Linked DNA regions of Homo sapiens: region 2 is linked to region 1. Evidence: fine-mapped expression QTL. Tissue or cell type: whole blood. Region 1 holds a variant in brackets; the other region holds the start of a gene. All regions are shown on one strand. Distances are from middle to middle.

The links. PIP is the estimated chance that this variant, and not a neighbour inherited with it, causes the effect.
Region 2: B4GALT1 starts here. The variant in region 1 is fine-mapped to the expression of B4GALT1 in whole blood (TOPMed, PIP above 0.99).

What each region holds. Positions count from the first base shown.
Region 1 is chr9:33,111,661-33,114,160 of GRCh38, reverse strand. It overlaps B4GALT1 (beta-1,4-galactosyltransferase 1), which reads left to right. Exons shown (of 6, transcript NM_001497.4): 5 at 283-387; 6 at 575-2,500. The coding sequence ends at 707. Among named protein-coding and RNA genes, the nearest start is that of MIR12117, 4.2 kb to the right of the region's middle. RefSeq lists an enhancer at 1,971-2,500. The variant A/G (reference allele first, on the strand shown) is at 1,090.
Region 2 is chr9:33,166,139-33,168,761 of GRCh38, reverse strand. It overlaps B4GALT1 (beta-1,4-galactosyltransferase 1), which reads left to right and starts at 1,426. Exons shown (of 6, transcript NM_001497.4): 1 at 1,426-2,004. The coding sequence starts at 1,593. B4GALT1-AS1 (B4GALT1 antisense RNA 1) reads right to left here and starts at 1,814. Exons shown (of 3, transcript NR_108110.1): 1 at 1,716-1,814. RefSeq lists enhancers at 843-922, 445-1,009, 993-1,092, 1,010-1,575 and silencers at 1,243-1,642, 1,401-1,674.

The sequences.
Region 1 (2,500 bases):
TTTGAAGCATTCACACTGTATATTCTGTGGGGCACACGGCCCCAGTGTCTGGCACATGGTAGTCAACACCACAAACCGCAGAACCAGTTGTAAAAGGACATGGAGTCGGAATGTGAGTTTTAACCAGGGTCATGCTGGGCTGGGTTCTGGCATGATGCTGGGTTGTGGGCTGAGTGAGAACAGCAAGGGTGATGGTGGATGGAGCAACAGTCTTGCAGCCGGGGCTCTCAGGCCAAGTGTATGGCAGCTCTGTGATAATGACTTTCCCTTTACTCTTTGCAGATTAGTTTTTAGAGGCATGTCTATATCTCGCCCAAATGCTGTGGTCGGGAGGTGTCGCATGATCCGCCACTCAAGAGACAAGAAAAATGAACCCAATCCTCAGAGGTGCATTCTTTGTTTATTCATACTCCTTCCCCCTTTAGGATGAGGTAGGCTGCAGGTCCGAGGCTCTGGGCCTAGAGGGAAATTGAGGTGGTCAGGTTACAGTGGAGAGGGAGGAGGAAGTACGTGTGATGATTTCTTCTTAAGATTTTTGTTTTAAGACAATCTCCTTGTGCTCTTTTCCTTGTAGGTTTGACCGAATTGCACACACAAAGGAGACAATGCTCTCTGATGGTTTGAACTCACTCACCTACCAGGTGCTGGATGTACAGAGATACCCATTGTATACCCAAATCACAGTGGACATCGGGACACCGAGCTAGCGTTTTGGTACACGGATAAGAGACCTGAAATTAGCCAGGGACCTCTGCTGTGTGTCTCTGCCAATCTGCTGGGCTGGTCCCTCTCATTTTTACCAGTCTGAGTGACAGGTCCCCTTCGCTCATCATTCAGATGGCTTTCCAGATGACCAGGACGAGTGGGATATTTTGCCCCCAACTTGGCTCGGCATGTGAATTCTTAGCTCTGCAAGGTGTTTATGCCTTTGCGGGTTTCTTGATGTGTTCGCAGTGTCACCCCAGAGTCAGAACTGTACACATCCCAAAATTTGGTGGCCGTGGAACACATTCCCGGTGATAGAATTGCTAAATTGTCGTGAAATAGGTTAGAATTTTTCTTTAAATTATGGTTTTCTTATTCGTGAAA[A/G]TTCGGAGAGTGCTGCTAAAATTGGATTGGTGTGATCTTTTTGGTAGTTGTAATTTAACAGAAAAACACAAAATTTCAACCATTCTTAATGTTACGTCCTCCCCCCACCCCCTTCTTTCAGTGGTATGCAACCACTGCAATCACTGTGCATATGTCTTTTCTTAGCAAAAGGATTTTAAAACTTGAGCCCTGGACCTTTTGTCCTATGTGTGTGGATTCCAGGGCAACTCTAGCATCAGAGCAAAAGCCTTGGGTTTCTCGCATTCAGTGGCCTATCTCCAGATTGTCTGATTTCTGAATGTAAAGTTGTTGTGTTTTTTTTTAAATAGTAGTTTGTAGTATTTTAAAGAAAGAACAGATCGAGTTCTAATTATGATCTAGCTTGATTTTGTGTTGATCCAAATTTGCATAGCTGTTTAATGTTAAGTCATGACAATTTATTTTTCTTGGCATGCTATGTAAACTTGAATTTCCTATGTATTTTTATTGTGGTGTTTTAAATATGGGGAGGGGTATTGAGCATTTTTTAGGGAGAAAAATAAATATATGCTGTAGTGGCCACAAATAGGCCTATGATTTAGCTGGCAGGCCAGGTTTTCTCAAGAGCAAAATCACCCTCTGGCCCCTTGGCAGGTAAGGCCTCCCGGTCAGCATTATCCTGCCAGACCTCGGGGAGGATACCTGGGAGACAGAAGCCTCTGCACCTACTGTGCAGAACTCTCCACTTCCCCAACCCTCCCCAGGTGGGCAGGGCGGAGGGAGCCTCAGCCTCCTTAGACTGACCCCTCAGGCCCCTAGGCTGGGGGGTTGTAAATAACAGCAGTCAGGTTGTTTACCAGCCCTTTGCACCTCCCCAGGCAGAGGGAGCCTCTGTTCTGGTGGGGGCCACCTCCCTCAGAGGCTCTGCTAGCCACACTCCGTGGCCCACCCTTTGTTACCAGTTCTTCCTCCTTCCTCTTTTCCCCTGCCTTTCTCATTCCTTCCTTCGTCTCCCTTTTTGTTCCTTTGCCTCTTGCCTGTCCCCTAAAACTTGACTGTGGCACTCAGGGTCAAACAGACTATCCATTCCCCAGCATGAATGTGCCTTTTAATTAGTGATCTAGAAAGAAGTTCAGCCGAACCCACACCCCAACTCCCTCCCAAGAACTTCGGTGCCTAAAGCCTCCTGTTCCACCTCAGGTTTTCACAGGTGCTCCCACCCCAGTTGAGGCTCCCACCCACAGGGCTGTCTGTCACAAACCCACCTCTGTTGGGAGCTATTGAGCCACCTGGGATGAGATGACACAAGGCACTCCTACCACTGAGCGCCTTTGCCAGGTCCAGCCTGGGCTCAGGTTCCAAGACTCAGCTGCCTAATCCCAGGGTTGAGCCTTGTGCTCGTGGCGGACCCCAAACCACTGCCCTCCTGGGT
Region 2 (2,623 bases), 55 kb before region 1:
ATATTATAAATCATTCCGAGGCAGTAAGTGTAGACACAAAAGAACATCATGGACTATGGCTGGGGCCTTCAGCAACTGGGGAAGAAGTCCAGAGAGGAGACAGAAATGGCCAGTGAAGTGAGGAAGATCAGAAGGACCTGGTGTCCAGGAAGTCAAGTGAGGAAAGTTGATTCTGTATGATCACAACCAAAGTGTCAACTCATAAGCCTTATTTTCTCATCTGTGAAATGGACACCGTAACACCACCTACTTCATGGCAGATAGTACTGGCACACAGCAAACTCTCAAAATAAGGTAGCTACTGTTATTCCCTGATGGTTGGCTGCCAGAGCCCTCAACTTCCCTATCCACATTACTGACAGCACCTCCATGAGTCTTTCTCTGGGGTGAGGTGTCTCTGCTCACTCAGGGCCTGAGGCCTCTGGGTCAAATCGAGGTCAAGTGGCTTCAGTGCCTAAGTCTCTCACCCACACAGCCTTCAGCCCTTACTTGCAAATCAACAAAGGGTAAACCTGTAGAAAACATGGGTTTCGGAGCCAGAATTCTGCCTCTTGCCAGCTGTGGGCTCTTAGGAAAGTTTCTTAATCTGCCGGGGCCCCACTCTACGACATGGGGAGAACTGCTACTTCATGGGACAGTGGGTAGCCCAGTGTAGACTGTAACGCCGGCTGATCTCCTGCACGCTGGCCTGGGAGTTAGAGGCTTCTTGCTGCTCTCCTCTTCAAAGTATACAGGACTCCCGCCACACACACATCTGGAACCAAGCTGGTCTGAGAGCCCCTTATAGCCCAGGCTACCTGATGGGGAGGCACAGAAGTGGCAACCCGTCCACTTTCTTTGCCGCAGGACCCCCCGTTAAGCAGCGGGGTCCAGCCGGGCTGAGTTAGGGAGGGGGTTTCGAACGTGCCACTCCTCGCCCGGCGTCGAAGCCCGTTTCCTGGGTAACCTTTTTCTGCCTCTCTTCCTAGCCCACCAAGGCCCACTGGCCAGAACGCCGCCGCGGCCCCAAACCACTCCAGATAACCACCCGCCAGCTGTCCTCTCCGTTCTCTCCGCCGCCGCGCTGCAGGCCCAGGCTCGCACCCGAGTCCCTTCGCACCCCAGGAAGTGGCGCGGCCTGTCGAGGGCAGCGTGGAGGAGGAAGAGGAGGCGCGGCTCAACGCGACCGAAGCTCCGCCGCAAAGGCTCGGGAGGAAGAGGGCGGTGCGCGGCCAAGCGTCGGAGCTGCAGTCATACTCCGGGGACCCCACGACGGCGCCCCGCCCGCTGCCCACCCTCCCGAGGCCCCGCCCAGCGCGCCCATCCCGCCACGGGCTGCCCCGCCTTCCCGCCCTCGTCCAGAAAACCCCGCGCCCGGCCCCGCCCCCGCCTTCGCCGGGGCCCCGCCCCTCCCCTCTCCGCCGGCGCCTCGGGCGGCTTCTCGCCGCTCCCAGGTCTGGCTGGCTGGAGGAGTCTCAGCTCTCAGCCGCTCGCCCGCCCCCGCTCCGGGCCCTCCCCTAGTCGCCGCTGTGGGGCAGCGCCTGGCGGGCGGCCCGCGGGCGGGTCGCCTCCCCTCCTGTAGCCCACACCCTTCTTAAAGCGGCGGCGGGAAGATGAGGCTTCGGGAGCCGCTCCTGAGCGGCAGCGCCGCGATGCCAGGCGCGTCCCTACAGCGGGCCTGCCGCCTGCTCGTGGCCGTCTGCGCTCTGCACCTTGGCGTCACCCTCGTTTACTACCTGGCTGGCCGCGACCTGAGCCGCCTGCCCCAACTGGTCGGAGTCTCCACACCGCTGCAGGGCGGCTCGAACAGTGCCGCCGCCATCGGGCAGTCCTCCGGGGAGCTCCGGACCGGAGGGGCCCGGCCGCCGCCTCCTCTAGGCGCCTCCTCCCAGCCGCGCCCGGGTGGCGACTCCAGCCCAGTCGTGGATTCTGGCCCTGGCCCCGCTAGCAACTTGACCTCGGTCCCAGTGCCCCACACCACCGCACTGTCGCTGCCCGCCTGCCCTGAGGAGTCCCCGCTGCTTGGTAAGGACTCGGGTCGGCGCCAGTCGGAGGATTGGGACCCCCCCGGATTTCCCCGACAGGGTCCCCCAGACATTCCCTCAGGCTGGCTCTTCTACGACAGCCAGCCTCCCTCTTCTGGATCAGAGTTTTAAATCCCAGACAGAGGCTTGGGACTGGATGGGAGAGAAGGTTTGCGAGGTGGGTCCCTGGGGAGTCCTGTTGGAGGCGTGGGGCCGGGACCGCACAGGGAAGTCCCGAGGCCCCTCTAGCCCCAGAACCAGAGAAGGCCTTGGAGACTTCCCTGCTGTGGCCCGAGGCTCAGGAAGTTTTGGAGTTTGGGTCTGCTTAGGGCTTCGAGCAGCCTTGCACTGAGAACTCTGGTAGGGACCTCGAGTAATCCACTCCCTTTTGGGGACTGACGTGAGGCTCCCGGTGGGGAAGGAGACTGACCTCTCGGTTCACGTGTCTTGCCATAGAGCCACTCTCCTGAGTGGGTTTTTCTCCTGATCGTTTGGGCCAAGTGACTTCTCTCTGAACCTCATATTTCTCTTCTGGGATAATAAATGGTCACCCTTTCAAGGGGTTGTTTTGGAAGATATTGTGAACAATGGTAAATAAGGGCTTAATTAATGAGGGTAAG